Homo sapiens: one gene and its partners. The protein of the gene in region 3 interacts with the protein of the main gene of each other region in a biochemical or structural test. Each region holds a gene or a part of one and is shown on either strand. Other genes may lie near its edges.

Evidence for each region. The genes of interacting proteins can lie anywhere in the genome.
Region 1: the proteins of SF3B3 (region 3) and SF3B6 form a complex in vitro, tested with the Homo sapiens proteins (one study listed by BioGRID).
Region 2: the proteins of SF3B3 (region 3) and U2AF2 form a complex in vitro, tested with the Homo sapiens proteins (one study listed by BioGRID).
Region 4: the proteins of SF3B3 (region 3) and ERG form a complex in vitro, tested with the Homo sapiens proteins (one large-scale study listed by BioGRID).

The regions. Positions count from the first base shown.
Region 1 is NC_000002.12:24,069,373-24,073,326, forward strand, and holds part of SF3B6 (splicing factor 3B subunit 6), read right to left. Parts: intron 1-3,954.
Region 2 is NC_000019.10:55,661,535-55,665,868, reverse strand, and holds part of U2AF2 (splicing factor U2AF 65 kDa subunit), read right to left. Parts: intron 4,099-4,334; exon of another isoform or gene 4,039-4,098; intron 3,368-4,038; coding exon 3,251-3,367; intron 2,264-3,250; coding exon 2,125-2,263; intron 1-2,124. UniProt on the Homo sapiens protein: Plays a role in pre-mRNA splicing and 3'-end processing. By recruiting PRPF19 and the PRP19C/Prp19 complex/NTC/Nineteen complex to the RNA polymerase II C-terminal domain (CTD), and thereby pre-mRNA, may couple transcription to splicing.
Region 3 is NC_000016.10:70,567,843-70,573,011, reverse strand, and holds part of SF3B3 (splicing factor 3B subunit 3), read right to left. Parts: intron 4,730-5,169; coding exon 4,517-4,729; intron 3,970-4,516; coding exon 3,871-3,969; intron 3,007-3,870; coding exon 2,863-3,006; intron 1,918-2,862; coding exon 1,813-1,917; intron 1,340-1,812; coding exon 1,199-1,339; 3' UTR 1-1,198. UniProt on the Homo sapiens protein: Component of the 17S U2 SnRNP complex of the spliceosome, a large ribonucleoprotein complex that removes introns from transcribed pre-mRNAs.
Region 4 is NC_000021.9:38,382,644-38,386,977, forward strand, and holds part of ERG (transcriptional regulator ERG), read right to left. Parts: intron 1,281-4,334; coding exon 760-1,280; 3' UTR 1-759. UniProt on the Homo sapiens protein: Transcriptional regulator. May participate in transcriptional regulation through the recruitment of SETDB1 histone methyltransferase and subsequent modification of local chromatin structure.

The DNA.
Region 1 (3,954 bases), on a different chromosome or scaffold from region 3:
TCACCAACTTCCTCTGGGAGAGGTAGAGAAGTTTGAGGAGCAACGCAACGCTAAATTGCAGGCAGCAGGTGGCCATGTGACTGTTAGTGGAGACAATGGGTAGAGGTCCCACTCAGTTCAGGCTCTGGGTGACAAGATGGCCCCCTTGCCTCCATCTGTGTTCCAACCACCCAGTGCAACTGTGGAATGAGGTTTAAGACTGTGGGCTGACTCTCCATCTGCCACAGTCCTTACATAGGGTTGAATAAAAGCAGTGGAGCCATGGGAAGAGGAGGTACCTGCCTAGACTTGATCTAGGATAGGACTATAGTCTGGGCCCTGTTCAAGCTTGTGCTTCCTGTAAAATTGAAAAGGAATAGGGTACTGGGGGTGATTGGAGGGTGCCACTGTCAATGAATGCGCTCACTTTGTCAGGTTGTGTGGGCCTGACGAGGGGTTTTAGAATGTTCTTTAGGCTCTGGCAAGTCTTAACAACTTTCAGACTTTTGACTTCTAAAAACTTAATAAGATTTTCAGTTCCTTAAGAGCAAAGGTGATCTTATGCGTACTTCATTTATTCCTTTAGTGCCACGCATAAGGCAGACGCTAATACGCCTTTGAAAAGTGGAGATCTACTTTCTTCTATCAGTTCTCTCACACACACTTTGTTCAGGAAGCTCAAAACAAAACTAAACAAAGCAACTCTCTTTCTTCCTCTTATATCTTCTTAGGAACTAGAATAGGGATAGACACTAACCCCACTTTAAAGACTCTCCATCTTAAGTGTCCCAGCCCTAATTATCAACCTCACACCTTGAGAGCCATATTATAATTTGAACTTTTAAAAGCATGTATCTGTACCTACCACGTATTGGACACTGAGCTAACATTATTTTCTTATTTTTTTGAGACAGAGTCAACCAATTCTTGTGCAGGTGTGCGCCACCATGCCCGACTAATTTTTGTATTTTTAGTAGAGATGGGGTTTTGCCATGTTGGCCAGGCAGGTCTCGAACTCCTGGCCTCAAGTGATCCACCCACCTCAGCCTCCCAAAGTGCTACAATTTTCTTGACTGGCATTAAAATCTTAGAGTAGGAATAAGAACACCTAAGCGTGTAACTTAGCCTCTGTGAGCTTCGGATGCTTCATGTATCCAGTGCCATCAGGCTCTATCACGTGCCCTACCTTCCACGTGGGTTTAATAATCAAAAGAGGTAACAAGTATCAAAGAGTTTTAAAAAGTACAAAGTACCAAGTGCCTGCTACATGCCAGGTAGGGTCAAACCAAATCATCCTGATTTGACTGGGACTGTCCAGGTTTTAGCACTGAAAGTCCAGTGTCCCAGAAAATCTCTCAGTACTGGGCAAACTGGGAAGGTTGGTCACCCTAGTGCCAGGTGCCAGGTATACAATAAAGCATGATCACAGTAATGGAACAGAAAAACAGCTGTTTCTCAATCTATAATTTAGACCTAAGCTCCTGTACCCTAAACTTCTATTAACCTATTCAACACATAGACTATGTTCTTTCTGCGACAGGCACTAGAAATACAATAGTGAAAAAGATAAGCATCATCCCTTCCTTCAAGCTTATATTCAGGCAGTAGAAAGACATTAAATAAATATGAAATCATTATAAATCTTTTTTTTTTCTTTTTGAGACGGAGTCGCACTCTGTCGCCCAGGCTGGAGTACAGTGGCATGATCTTGGCTCACTGCAACCTCCACCTCCCGGGTTCAAGCGGCTCTCCTGCCTCAGCCTCCTGAGTAGCTGGGATTATAGGCATGCACCACCACGCCTGGCTAAGTTTTGTATTTTTAGTAGAGACGAGGTTTCACCATGTTGGTCAGGCTGTTCTCAAACTCCTGACCTTGTGATCTGCCCACTTCAGCCTTCCAAAGTGCTGGCATTACAGGCGTGAGCCACTGCGCCCAGCCCTGAAATAATTATAAATCTTAAGAAATGTTTCGGCTTGGCACGGTGGCTCATGCTTGTAATCCCAGCACTTTGGGAAGCCGAGGTGGGAGGATCACCTGAGGTCAGGAGTTCAAGACCAGCCTGGCCAACGTGGTGAAACCCCATCTCTACTAAAAATACAAAAATTAGCCAGGCATGCTGGTGGGTGCCTGTAATCTCAGCAACTCAGGAGGCTGAGGCTGGAGAACCACTTGAACCTGGGAGGCGGAGTTTGCAGTGAGCCGAGATCGTGCCATTGCACTCCAGCCTGGGCAACAAGAGCGAAACTCCATCTTAAAAAAAGAAATGTTTCATACAAGAAGTAGAAAGCTGTAACAGATAGGGAAACAGGGAGCTACTTCAGCTAGGGTGGTCAGGGAAAACCCCTCTGAAAAGGTGACACTGAAGCTGAGACCTGAAGAATGAGGAGGAGCCAGGCATGAGATGAGCTGGTGAAAACCATTCCAGATACAAGGAAAATAGAAGCACAAAGGTTCTGAGCTGCTCTGCACTCTTCTGAAGATGCCCCTGCTTTATTCCCTGTCCTTTCATTTTGGCTTTCTGAAACATTCTCTAACTTCACTGATTTTAAGCATCCCTTAATTGAGTACTATCAATAAATTTTATAATGCCCTAGTAAACCAATCACAACCACTTTTTATATTATTCTTCTATTTTCTTTTCTTTTGTTGAAACAGGATCTCACTCTGTCGCCCAGACTGGAGTGCAGTGGCATGATCTCGGCTCACTCACTGCAGCCTCAGCCTCCCAGGTTCAAGCGATTCTCCCACTTGAGCCTCCTGAGTAATTGCATTACAGGCGCGTGCCACCATGCCCAGCTAATTTTTGTATTTTTTTTTAGAGAGGGGGTTTCACCATTTGGCCAGGGTGGTCTCGAACTCCTAACCTCTGGTGATCTGCCTGTCTCGGCCTCCCAAAGTGCCGGGATTACAGGTGTGAGCCACCACATCTGGCCTATTCTACTATTTTCTATATTATTCATTTAGTATACATCGGGTGCTTACCATGTATCGCACAAGTGCTATCAACACAAAAACAAAAATAATATATGGTACGAGCCCTGGAGGAACTCACAACCTGCCCAGGGTGACAGATGAATATAGAGACAACAGCAAAACCATGTGTTAACCTAGGAGAGACACATGGAAATGCTATGGGAGCAGAAGAGTGGCTAATGTACACTGGGAAGGAAAACTGATAAAGTACCTTCACAGACACTGTGTAATTTCATCCAAATTAAAATTCTTTTAAGACAGTAGGTTAGGAAGACTGTATTTCATAGATAATTGAAACCCAGATAAGGTTAAATATTTTCTCCAGTTTCGTAAGAGTAGGCAAGCCAGTATTTGAACCCAGGCCTTACAACCAATCTATGCTGTTTCCACATTAAAAGCTAAAAGGCCACCACCCAGATTATCTCATACATGAAGAGAAAACCAAAAAAGCTAGGCAACTAGTCACACACATGGCTAGTAACAAGGCCTGAAGTAGAATCTTGTCTCCTGATCCCCAAGGCAGGGATTCGCCATGTTGGCCAGGCAGGTCTTGAACTCCTGGCCTTGTATACCATTCTGTATCTAGAGCAGGGTTTCTTGACCTAGAGTCCATGTATCCCCTGAAATATATGCAACATGAGTGTATTCTTCTGTGGAAGGAGTCTAAAGCTTTTATCAGATGCTCAAAGGACTGAGACCTCCTAAAAAGGACAGCTGGTCTATAACACTTTCACTTTCATCCCCATCTGAGTACCAATGATCATGTATTTCCAGCTCTTGGTTTACTCTCTGGAGGGACAGTGTCATTCAAAAGGAGGGTCCTCAAGACCTCATAGTCCTAAAGCCAGGAAGGAGCTCTCAAGTCATACAAGACGGAATTCCGACTAGAAATAAAAACTTTATACGTAGTCATTACTGTGGTAAAATAATAATTTTTTTAAAATAAAAACTTTAGAAATCCTTTCAGATGGACTCTTAAGTCACTAGCCCTTTCATATGAG
Region 2 (4,334 bases), on a different chromosome or scaffold from region 3:
GAGACCAGCCTGGCCAACATGGTGAAACCCCATCTCTACTAAAAACACAAAAAATTAGCAGGTGTGGTGGCACATGCCTGTAATCCCAGCTACTCGGGAGGCTGAGGCAGGAGAATCGCTTGAACCTGGGAGGCGGAGGTTGCAGTGAGCCGAGATCACACCACTGCACTCCAGCCTGGGCAACACAGCAAGACTCCGTCTCAAAAAACACAACAAAAAAACAAAAAACAGGCAGTGGGCCAGCGTTGGACTCTCAGTTGTAACCTGCCAATCCCTGTGTCGTAGAACTGCCGTGCATGGAGGGCACTTAGGACAGCGCCAATCCCTGTGTCGTAGAACTGCCGTCCATGGAGGGCACTTAGGACAGCGCCAATCCCTGTGTCGTAGAACTGCCGTCCATGGAGGGCACTTAGGACAGCGCCAATCCCTGTGTCGTAGAACTGCCGTCCATGGAGGGCACTTAGGACAGCGCCAATCCCTGTGTCGTAGAACTGCCGTGCATGGAGGGCACTTAGGACAGCGCCAATCCCTGTGTCGTAGAACTGCCGTCCATGGAGGGCACTTAGGACAGCGCCAATCCCTGTGTCGTAGAACTGCCGTGCATGGAGGGCACTTAGGACAGCGCCTGACACACACTAAGCACCAGCAAGTGGCGGGCCACTCATGGGACTTAAAATGAATGAAAACGCAGTGGATTCACCAGGAAGAGACGTGGGGAAGACATTCTGCAGCTTGATCGGGGAAACGCACCCATACGTAAAAAGTCCATGTCGATTGGGAGCATGTCAACATATATTACAGGCTCCAAAAGGTTAGCTGAATTTACCAAAACCCATGATGGAAAAGCACTGGGCTGAGCGCAGTGGCTCATGCCTGTAATCCCAACACTCTGGGAGACTGAGGTGAGCGGATCACTTGAGGTCAGGCGTCGGAGACCAACCTGACCAACATGGTGAAACCCACCCTCTACTAAAAATACAAAAATTAGCCAGACATGGTGGCAGGTGCCTGTAATCCCAGCTGCTCGGGAGGCTGAAGCAGGAGAATTGCTTGAACCCTAGAGGCGGAGGATGCAGTAAGCCGAGATCGTGCCACTGCATTCCAGCCTGGGTGACAGAGCGAGACTGTCTCAAAACAACAACAACAACAAAAAGAAAAGCACTGGAGGCCAGTGAGGGACCTAGCCCAAGTCCTGCCTGACACAGATGTGCCTCCGTCTGGGGCTCCACATCGCCTGCCCTGAAGAGCTGACTCAGTTCCTAAAGGGCTCCTCGAACAGTGAGTACCCGCCAGCAGAACCCCACCTCCTCCATGTCCCAGGCCTGAGACACAGCCGCACCCTGACAGGGCATCAGACAAGCCCTCCCTCAAATCCCATTCATCAGCTACAAGGGTCAGCCAACTATAGCCTGTGGGCTGACAGGGCCCATCACCTGGTTTTGCACATCCTGCAAGCTTTCTAAAGGGAGACCATTCTGTGGCCTGTGAGAAGCACAGGAAAGCCCAACCTCAGCAGCCACGCGTGTCGAGGTGTGCCGGCACACAGCCAGGCCCACGCACGCAGACACCGTCCGGCTGCTTTCACACACAGTGACATGGTCGCCAACCCCTGGTCTGCTATGTTACCTACCAATTACAGATGATGTTCAACACAGCTATGGGGAATGGCCCAGAACACAAGATTCAAGGCAAACACTAGGAGACAAAAACAAGTGAATACCCAGGTGCCAGACCCCACAGCAGCAGCTTTGCTGCCAACCGTCGACACACAGCAGCCCCGACGGGCACAGACTGAGCCCTCCAAGGTCCCACAGCCGCAACGCAGGCACGAGGTCCAGGCCACAAGCCCCTCGCTTCCCCAGCACCTTTGGTCTGATCCTGGCTCTGCCACGTACAAGCTGTGTGTCCTCAGCAGGTGACAGCTCATTCTCCCGGCCCTAGGCACCTTCTCTACCAGCAGGAGAGCACCCCACTCACAGAGACTTAGGGGAAGCAGGGAAAAGGCACCTATCTTCCACAGTACTTACACAACTTCCTAAGCCACTCCAGCTGGGCTGAAGGGATGGACAGGCCATGGGAACAGGACTGGGGGAGAAAGGGGCCCTTAATGGATCCCCCACTCACCAGGCACATAGACGGAGGGGTTCTCTGACATGCCAGGAAGCGGCTGGTAGTCGTGAGGCCTGCGGATCTTTAGTGACTGGCCCTGGAAGATGATGCCATCAAAGGCCATAGCCTGGGTAGTCTCGTCCACTGAGCGGAACTGAATGAAAGAGAAAGGAGTGGTGAGGGATGGGGGTCAGGGACTAGTACAGCCCCTAGTGTTCCAGGATTGGGATTTCCTCTTTCCTTTCACTCATGTGAACAAATACAACATGCCAGGCCCCAGGCTGGGCACTGGGAGTACAACAGACACGCATGTCCCTGCTGCCAGGAGCTCACACTCGACCATTAAAAACACCAGGCACCCAACACAAACACAGAGGCAAACACACAATTGCAGGCTGTGATGACACGGAAGAGGGACAAAGTGCTGAAAAGGGATGTTACGGGAAAGGTTAGTTGAACGGGGAGATGACAGTACTGGAGTCTTTCTGGTGAGGGGGACATTTCAGCCCATCTCCGGAGCAATGCAACTGCAAGTGGACTGCAGTGAGGCAAAGACAGAGTGAGAGGGACAGAGTGAGAGGGAGTGCTCAGACAGTGAGAGGGAGTGCTCAGAAATCTCTGCAGTAAGCTAACACTGCCCACACCTTCACAATACTTCATGAGAGTTATCAGTCCACCAAGAGTCGAAAATCAAAAACCAAGGCCTTTTCCCGACAGTTGAGAAACACAGACACAGAAGACTAGTTAGGAACATCAGTTAGCTGGGGTAACAGAAGACTAGTTAGGAACATCAGTTAGCTGGTGTAAAGAACTCTAGCCAAGCAGGCAGGAGCATGGTAGGTTCTGGGAAGGTCAGTGTGGCCAGAGTGCAGAGAGGACTGGGCCGGAATGGTCTGGAAAAGGCCAAAGAGGTCTACAGAGGCCAAACAGGCCTCTCAGGTCACACAGAAAGCAAATGGAAGGCAGAAAGTAGGATCAGATCTGTAATGCTATAACAGGGCTCACTTCAGCGACCGGGTGGAGAAGAGGCTGCAGAGGGCCTGGTGGAAACAGCACAAGGCAGCTCCACACAACATCAGCCTAAGGGCTGGGCCCTCACATCACACACGTTTCCTGGACCTCACTCACTCCCCCAGCTCACCTCCAAAAAGGCAAAATTCTTGTCCTGGTTAATCTGCACAGCCAACACTGGGTTGCCAGGGGCCTGGGTCAGCCCCCCCAGGCGCATCTGGGCGTTGAAGAAATCCATCATGGCCTCCTGCAGAGGGAATAGGAGACAAGGGGGGGGGCGGGGGAAGGGAGGTGGAGAGAGGAGGGGAAGGGTGAGAGAGGGAGACACAGAGGGGTTTGGGGGTAAGGGGAGAGGGATGAGGGGAGGGAGGAGGGGGGGAAGGAACAGTGGAATATGGGTGGGGGTGTAGAAGTCAATAGTAAGAACAGAAGCAAGAGAGAAAATGGGGAGGAAGCAGTAGCAAGAGACGGCCAAGGGCAGGCGATGGACAGGCGTTGGGGGACAGCCACAGGGGCCCCAAAAAATCAGGGGAAAGGAGAAGATTGTTCAAGAAAAGGCAGAGGGCATGATGACAACACAAAATGAAGAAAAACACGAAACACAAGAGATGAAGAGACAGAGCACACAGGAAGGGCCACCCAGTGGAGACAGACAGAAAAGTGGCAGGAAAGTAGAAAGGAAGTGGCAGGCAGGGGCAGAGACGAGCAAAGGACAGAAAGGGAGAGCAGGACAGAGACGAGCGAGGAGGAGGAAGTCAAGAGTGCAGGGGCAGGAGAGGAGGAGTGTAGGGAGGAGGGGCAGGGACGGGAGGGGAGGAGAAAAGAGTGATGTGGAGGAATCTGGCCCTGGAGTCCGGGGGCTGGTTTATCAAATGTAGCAAAGTGCAGGTTGAGAAAGTCAGAATGGACCTTACTTGCCTTCGACGATGGTAGCAAACTTTTTGTTGCTACGAGGGATCTCAGCCCCACAATATTTCACTTTAAAGAGAAATGGAAACAACTCTTTGATCTCGGGATTCTCAGGGGGTGCCACAGGAAGGGGTTGGGGAGAGGGGAGAGGGAAAAGGAGTGGTGGGGAAGGGGGAGGTCAGGGGCGATCAAAAATAAAAGAACAGCGACCATGGGAGGGACGTGGGGGAGAGGATAGGGGACAGGCGGCAGAGAACGAGAGGCGTGTCAGAAAAAAACTGAGGGGCAGCGTGCGTCTGTGTGTG
Region 3 (5,169 bases):
TTTGCTCAATTTAGATGGCTGAGCACATGCAGACGAAAGAAAGTTTTACATTTGTGAAGTATTGAGAACAGTGAGCTCACTTCTCCAGGTTCAAGGCGCAAGGACAGCCTGGAAGACGAGGGCTTCCCACACAACTAAACAGGAGGAATTCTCAGGGGTGGGCTGGAACATTTCTGGAACTGGGCCTCTTCCACCTAACAGGCTCTCATTATACCCTAAAGGCCCTCTGGAACCCACCTGAGATGGGTGCTGCAGACAGGCCCCACATATACACAGTTCTCAGGGGCAGGGCAGTATCTAGGTTCTTCTGTACTGACCCTTCCTATGGTCCTATGGAGCCAAAGATCGCTTTAGGTGCTGTATCAGTAAAAGGGGCATCTGTTAAGACTCCCCAGCTAGAATTCATGCTAAAATCCCCATACTAACATCCTCAGAGTAGAAGAGGAGGAAGAATCAGCCACCCTTCCTCAATACCCAGTGGGAAGAGGGGTGGGTATACACATGGTTATTGAGGTCATGTTTCATCAGCACAGCAAAAAGAACCAGGAAAAAACAAAGAAACCACCACAGACCTGGGGGTGGGGAGCCACAGAGTGCCGCAAGTCCAAGTCGGTATCTGGAAGGAAGGAGTCTACTCAGTTCTTCCTGCTCTAACTTGGGTTCAAACCTCCCACCTACATCCTCATCTCCAGAACAAGACACATGGATGCCAGTCACCTTAAAAACTAGGTTTCTATTTCTGGTTAGATTCTAGAGCAGTGGAACTCAGGAGTGATACTATACCCTACCCAGTCCCACCACAGCCTGCCTCCTTCCTCCCACAGAGATAACATTGTACAAAACTGTATTTACAAGAAAACCAATTAAAAATTAAGGGTGTGTGCAAAAGTAGACAGGAGAGTCAAGACATATCAATGCAGGGATGGCTTTGGGGAATGGGGGACTCAGGTTCTACACTGGAACCTGGGGTCATGTATCATGTACCAGGTGGGGAGAAGTGTAGCAAATCTCAGTGCCAATTTGAGGGGAAGCCAGTCATTCCAGGAGAAGAGCTGAGGGGAAAGAGCTGTTGACTTTCATAATGCAGTCTTAATTATCCAGTCACCCTCCTGCCACATGGCAGAAGCCAGGTGGCAGTGATGGTGGTGGGGGAAACAAAACACACAGTCTCTGGCAAGCCCCACCGGGAAAGGAGGGCTCAGAAGGCGTAGCGGGTCCGGATATCCTCGAGTTTCTTGGACACTTCGGGTGGGGTTCGGTCCAGTTCTTCAGAGACGTTCTTTTGTTTGTTGGGTTCCATGGAATTGAACTGCTCACAGAGGTCTCCATCAATCACATTCTAAGATATGGAGAAAGCAGAAAGAAAAAAAATGGTGAGATGCCCAAAGAAAATGGCACATGCTAAAGCAGCACTTGTAGGGAAAGCTGTTTTTATTTTTTAGTTTTTGAGACAGGGTCTCACCCTATCATCCGGGTTGCAGTGCAGTGGGATAATCTTAGCTCACTGCACTCTCAAAATCTGGGGCTCAGCCTCCCGATTGGCTGGGACCACAAATGTGTGCCACCACGCCCAGACCGGGAAAACTTTTTATTCTCCACTCGATACTTGAACCCCACTTGTAGATCCAGGAACACTATCTTAAGTTGACTCTTGGTACTCAGAGTTCAGATTGGCAGAAGCAGGTGAAGCCTTTGCTCTGGCTGTGGTCTGCCCTGAGGGGAGCACCCTCCCTGGTACTATTCCCATCAATCCACTCCCTGTGCTGCTCCTTTCTCAGATCTCCCTTTTCAGCTCAGATTCCCCCAACCTACCTTCACAGGGAAGTAGTAGGAGCGAAAGCTGAGGTGGTCCCGCCCACAGAGAGGGGGATGTTCAGACCGCAGGTGCATTTCCACATGCTGGAAGAAGTCATGGTCCTGGCAGAAGAAACAAAAAATCTGTCACTGAGAAGTGATTTCAACTAGTCTAGAGTTTCCACAAGCACAACGAACAGACAAGCCATTCATTTTTACTACACAAACACACGGGAAATATCTAATCACTTTCTGATAATCACAGGTTTTTCTGCTACAACACGATAGTTAAACCCCAAAAGGAGACCACATGTTGTCTGCAGTGCAAGAGAGAATGCCACACATAAAGAATGGTTTGTGAGGTCAGATTCCTGATCCCAGCTTCCTTGGCTGGAATAAAACATGCCAAACTCTGGCAAACCTAGAGTTGATTCCATATGGCAGTGTGTGCCCCAGGAGGGATCATCCCATCAATCCTGGCAATCCTAGTCTGTGGAGTCCAGTTCTAAAGCTCTGGGCTCAGGCTAACCTTGTAAACTCGCATCAGACTGAAGCAAACCCTGGGACACTATAAAAACAAACGGCCTGGCCGGGCGCGGGTGGCTCACGCCTGTAATCCCAGCACTTTGGGAGGCTGAGGCAGGCGGATCACAAGGTCAAGAGATCGAGACCACCCTGGCTAACACGGTGAAACCCCATCTCTATTAAAAATACAAAAAATTAGCCGGGCATGGTGGCGGGCGCCTGTATTCCCAGCTACTTGGGAGGCTGAGGCAGGAGAATGGCGTGAACCTGGGAGGTGGAGTTTGCAATGAGCTGAGATTGCGCCACTGCACTCCAGCCCGGGTAACAGTGAGACTCCGTCGCAAAAAAAAAAAAAAAAACCAAATGGCCTTCCCTGGGTGCGGGAGAATCAAGATTCCTATCTCCCCAAGTACTTCTGTCACTTTATAATTCCCAGAACATTATTAATTATATGTGGGGACAAATGAATTTGACCTCTTAGGTAGATCCAGCACCAAGAAACAACCTTAAAAGTCAAGGCCAGAGTAATGTGGGCGCTCTCACCTCATGGGACGTGAATGGCACAAGGATGCCAATTCCTCCAGACAAGGTGGTATAGACAAGTGATTCTGAGCCTCCAGGGATCAGCGTGGTCTTCTGCAAGGACAGCACCGTCTCCCCGACATGGTAGTTCATGATCACCTCTGCCTGTGAGTCACAAACAGACTAGTGACTGTGTGCACCCTCAGGAGCCTCCCTGGACTCCCAAGGGCAAGCAGTGCTCCCTAAGGCACATTTCATCATCTATTAACATCCAAAAATTATTATAGAGGCCAACGTGGGAGGATTGCTTGAGCCCAGGATTTCAAGACCAGCCTGGGCAACACAGTGAGGTCTCGTATACCCATACCCACAAAATCTGCCAGGTTTGGTGGCATGTACTATAGTCTCAGCTACTCAGGAGGCTGAGTGGGAAGGATCACTTGAGCCCAGGAGGTGGAAGCTGCAGTGATCTGTGATTGTACCACCACACTCCAGCCCGGGCGACTGAGTGAGACCTTGTCTCAAAAACAAACAATAAATCCAAAAATTATTAAACCCTACAAATATTTTAAAATTCTCACATTTACTTAAAGCTTAATGCCTCATAAAACATGCTAAAGTTACTGTTCATCATTTCTTACGATAAGAATCATTTTGTTAAATTTATCAAGCTTGCCATAAAAAAGGAAAACACAAAGAAAATTATAGAAAACAGCAATCACTAGGCTTGTCTTCTAAAATAGATTTGCCCGAAAGTCCAGAGATGCTCTATTAAAGCAGCACATGCCTACAGGAGAAAGTAAAGCCCAGGACACACCTCAGAGCAGAGGACTGGGAATGGACTCTCTCTAAGAAACTCGCTACTCTCCAAGGAGATTTTTTGCAGATTGGTAAGAAAGGACTGTGGACGGACAGCACTCAGCACAGTCGTGTGCACTATGAATAATTCACCAAAGGCAATTTCTTCAGTGAGGGCAACAGGAAAAGTGCTAAGCAGTGTTCTCCCTGGGGCCCATTCTGCAATCTTACCTTCTGGGAGGCCCCATTGAGCAAGCCACGGTCCCACAGGGCTTTGTTTCCTGTAGGATCCTCATCTACTTCATCATTGGTGTTAGGTGGGAGCCTCACCTACAAGGAAGTGACACAAGTCACACTGCTGGGGCCCGGACCTGCTCACCTGAGTCACCAAGCAACAGGTCTGGCCAGGTCTTTGCAAGTCAGCCACAGGGGCACTGCCTAGACAGAGGCCTGAGCCCACGTGTCCTGCACCTGCTCTGGTGGGCAGGAGCTGTGTCTGAGGAGCAAGAAACTCAAAAGAATCGACCCATGAGCAAGAGTTTAACACAGCTAAGGGTAAAACCAAAACCACACAACATAGATAACAGACATTCCAAAGTTCTTATAAAATGTAAAAAGAAATATTAGCCATTAGCTCAAACTAAACCTATCATTAAATCACGTTCAATAGGGAGGAGGGAGATAAACCACAGAGAAAAATCCAAAAGACTAGTAAGAAGGCTTAAAGAACAGATTGCTTGTAGAGTTAGCTTTAGTAGGATGGAATTTTATATCCATTTTTACTTCTCAGATTTGATTCCTCCTTGGCTTTACCCACAAGAAACTGAGCCAGCTTTCCTACACATCACTGTAACCCAAGTTAACAACATCAACTCACCACACATATGTTGCCAAACTTGTCTGCCCCAGCCACAGTGTCATAGTCCAGGAGGCTGGCTGTAGTGACCCATCGGGGGTAGGTATCATCAGCAAAGATGATAAGCTGGTTTTCATTACGCTTGTAGCGAACCCAGATGAAACTTTCTTGGACATCAGATACAATTACCCTATGTCCGATAGTCTGGATCCCAGAGATATAATTGGCAATATGCTGGGAAAAACAAAGACAATAGTGATGGTGGGTGTAATCTTGGGGTTCAGAACCCAAAGAAAGCCCAGCTTTCCGTATGACATACGTAGGGTCAGCAGAACAGCAAATACCAAAAACCAGCAGTTAGCAATGAATTCTAGGTGGGAAAAAAGAGCCAAATAGCTTTTAATATAGTGCAAATATATGCCTAACTCTCACATTTACTTTCCTTATAGAAGCTAGCAAGATAGAAAGCTGGTTCTTGTTTGGTAAGTCAAGAAATGAGATCCCTCTACTCCTGCTCCTCTCAAAACTCAAGGGCCGGTGCGGTGGCTCACGCCTGTAAACCCAGGACTTTGGGAGGCTAAGGCGGGTAGATCATGAGATCAGGAGTTAAGAGACTAGCCTGGCCAACATGGTAAAACCCTGTCTCTACTAAAGATACAAAAAATTTGCCAGGC
Region 4 (4,334 bases), on a different chromosome or scaffold from region 3:
GAAGTTTCTTTCCCAGCCCTGGTCTCCTCCTTCTCTGCCTCTTCCTCCTCCTTCTTCACCCCTCTGTCTACAATCACACGCTCACTCTATACACATCCTCAGTCCCACCTTTTAGTTCATAGTCCCGGTAATACTGTAAAGGAGTTGGAAACTTTGGGTCATCTTCACAGTTTGAGAAAGCTGACAGCTGTCCATCAAACGGAATGTATTTGATTTCAACCAAAACAGCACATGCCATGCAGTTGCATATCAACGTCTGTTGATGGGCCACAGTCTCTCTCGTGTCTTTTCTCTTGTTTTTGATATGTTTCTATTTTTAAATACAGGTAGTTTTCCTTAAAATGGCATTATAAACGGTATGTTAGGTCAAAACTGTGTTGTTTCTATTGCTTTAGTTTCATCCCAGTTTGCATTAGTGGGATTCCAAACTCTACTCTAAAGTTTATACATTTCTTAAGACCACTTTCTTTGGCACTTTGTCCTTAAGACTTCATGCTTCTACATACACTGTCTTTTACAAGGTCAGTCCACAGATGATATGTCCATATTCGTGACATTTTTAGCATCCTCCTCATTTCTGTAGTAAGACTTCAGTAACTCCCTCCCAAGAGTCTTTGGATCTCTTCCCCGGCTTCCTTCCCCAGCCCCAGTAAAGCTTTTTTCATTCCTCTTGAGGCACTTTTGATTCATGTTCTCCGATAGAGTTTGTGGCGATGGGCTGGTGAATGCACGCTGATGGGAAAAGCCTCCGCCAGGTCTTTAGTAGTAAGTGCCCAGATGAGAAGGCATATGGCTGGTGGGGAGCCTAGTGTTGGGGTATATACCCCCAGTTGGTGAATTCCAGTATGGGTTTGGGGCAGCAAAAAAACTGGAAGATGTCACGGGGAGGGCTGGAGGGTGGGGCGCCACAAAGTTCATCTTCTGTGGGTGGGCGTGATAGGAGCCCATGTACGGGAGGTCTGAGGGGTACTTGTACAGAGATGACTCCGGGGGGTGGGGCTGGAGGGCCTGGGCGATCCCGTGGAAGTCGAACTTGTAGGCGTAGCGCTTCCCATGGACCTTGGTCATGATGTTCTTGTCATAGTAGTAACGGAGGGCGCGGCTGAGCTTATCGTAGTTCATGTTGGGTTTGCTCTTCCGCTCTCCCCAGCGCCGGGCCACCTCGTCGGGATCCGTCATCTTGAACTCCCCGTTGGTGCCTTCCCAGGTGATGCAGCTGGAGTTGGAGCTGTCCGACAGGAGCTCCAGGAGGAACTGCCAAAGCTGGATCTGGCCACTGCCTAATGAGGTCAGGAGAGGAAGGAAAACTCCAGTGAGCACAGGTTCCAGGGGAAAGAGGCTCTCTGTGATGACGGAAGGAGGTGCTATTGGTGTGCCGCCCACATTCCCTTCACCAGGCCTGTCCGTCCATCCCTCAGCTGCAGGGGTGCGGACTGCTCTCGTTCCATGGCCACCCACTTCTCCAGAGAACTGCCCTTGCCTGAACAGAGCCGCCGCCTCGCCCACCCCCAGGTATCCCACAGCTGGGTGGACTGAACGGGGTACCACGGGCCGGCCCCCTTGCCTCAAGGAAAGACCAACTCCATGACGCTATTCAGGCTTCAGGGCTCCCGTGGGATTGGGCTGAAACAGCGTCCAGCTGCAAGGAGGCTTGGAGGAGGCCAGAAACTTCCTTAGCGCTGCCCCTGCAGCACTTCCCATTCTCTCTCTCCTGAGAACATGCCGTTAATCAGTCACCTGCACAAGCAGGCTTACCCCAAGCTCTGCATCAAGGGAACCCGACCTAGGACGATGATCTAACAGATTCAAGACCTAGATGGAATGCAGCGAATTCATATGGGGCAAAGTTCAGGCTGCTTCCATCCATTTCTGACGTCCTTAAAAGAACAGCCAGATCAACCTGGTGTTTAGGGGATGAAAGAGCTATATATTTTTTTTTCCTATTTTGTGAAGCACAAAGTACTGTTATGTGGATGGCAATAATGACTTAATGCCATTTATATTGGCTAGGTCAAGTAAGATAATAAAAGTTAGATTTAGGAAATGAACTTCTAAAAGTTTATGGAAAAAAATCGAGAATGGAAGTAAACACCATTATTTCTAACATAACATTTTGCTGGCGCTCAGAAAGCAATTCTGTGAAAACTTTTCCTAGAACAGAATTAACCCACTCAAAATGAGGAAGTTTAGGAAAAAAAAAAAAAAAGCTGGCTCTTTTTCAAACCAGATCACCCAGTTCCAGTATTTGGGCAAGCGCATCGTAACGGAAACCAGTGCCTTGCCTGTGTGCTGCAACGCCAATTGTGTTAAGCAGCATTTCCAGAAGAAAAACCCCAACAATGAGTGATTGCAAGTCCCCTTGGGAAGCTGAATGAGACTCTTCCTTTGTCAAAGAGATCACATTTAGCTGGGTGGACAAAGTCAGAATTTTCTTGATTTCATTGAAATCATACAGATACAGCTTTGTTTTATGAAATTCAAAGAAAAATCTAGGCACATCATTCTAGCTGCTATGTTACAATACTTGAAGATAGTTTATGGCTCCCTAGAAGACAGCAGCATGTAAATATTGACAGCAGTATCCGTACCAAGAGAAGCTAAGCTGTGCTGAACATATTTCAGAAGCTTAAGAACAGATGGGAGGTGGGTCTTTCCTCCCAAATTCCAGTTACAGCACTGCCTTAGACTTATTACCAAAAGATTACCTTTTATTATAGTGTAAGTAATATCAATCGATGTGATAAAATGATTAAAGTAACTTTAACTGACATCTACTCAGGGAAGTAATATACTGTAAAAATCAATTTTACGTTCATTTTCTTCTAAATCCTCGCTAGCCTCCTGTACATATCACCCAACTTATAAACTCTGCTTTGCATGTTGGCTACATGGACATGGATATTTTTGTGAATTTATCCATACAATAGCACTGTGAGAAAGGTCAGCTTTTTCTGAATCTATGCTGGAAAGTGCTCATTTTCAGTCTAGCAACACATTTGAAATGTATTAACAGCTTGTAGCTCATTGAAGTGGAAGCCTTTGCTTTTTCAGAACCACATATACAAACTGTTCCCAATCAAGTTTTGTTGCCTCCAACATTTTATTAATATGCATTTAGAAAATACAAAGAATGGTATGAGAAAACCATATGGTCTTAGTATATATATTGTAACCAAAAAATTACAACTTGAAAAAATTCCGTATATGACCTGGGAATAGGAAAAGGCATGGATTTTTGATTTAACAGTCTAACAGATGCTTCAATATAAACACATACGGTTGTTTGAAAATAAATATTCAGCGTCAACTTTCTCCCATAGAGAAAGCAACTCCACAGACCTGCCGAAATCACACTTGGAATCTACTCAAACCTTGGCATTGCCTCTTAGCAATTTGTCCCTCACCCATTTCTCTTATAAACGTGTGTAGGACAGAATCAGTGGACAAAAGTGATCTCATGTCTCTCCTATTTCTGAAGAGTTAGAAAGCAGGGGACCTAAATTTGTGGCAGCAAACTCTATGCCCAAAGGATGGATGAGCTAATTTCTCACTTGACTATTTTACCCAGTAGCCATAAAGACATAGGGCTCAGGACTGTGAGAATTTCAAGGGAGGGTCTATAGAAATAAGAGAACTGTAAGCAAAATTCATCAGCTTTCAAACCTTGAAAGAAACCTGGAAATGCAAAATCAATGAATGTTTAAGTAAATGGTAGAAAGAGTAACATCATGTCAAACTCATTAATTGTTAAATTTAATATTTGTAACAAAATTCGCTGCATTTTGCAGTGTGTAGAACAAAATTTCTCACTGCAAGAATTCTCAAAAATGAACAATGGTTGTTAAAAAATTGTCAGTGGTAAAGGAATTATTCTCAGTCATAAAATTTTAAGAGCAATTTTTAAATTCTTATTTTACTTCCAAAACAATAACATTTAATGTGTGACGAGGTGCATTTTAGAATATAGAATAGAGATTTCCAAACAAGAATGCTTAGGGTTTAGGAAAGCCTAAAAGTGGCTTGGGTCACTCATGGGCCAAACCAGGATTTACAAAGAGAAGTTCTTGAAAGACAAGAGCTTTCATTGAGTAGCATCACCACCTCTACCTTAGGACTCACCTTTCTTGGGTAAACCCTTCAGATCTATTTTTTTTTTTTACTCTCTCTTAATAACATCCTTGCGATGTCAGTAAGGAGGAACTAATTTTTTCTTAGGGTAATTACCAAAATAAAACATATTTGGAGGTAAAAAACAGTGGCAAGCAGCATTGTCCACCTACAGAGAACCCTGTGGGTGAAAGGGAGCGGCTGTGGCTTTTAAGAAGACAGAGGCA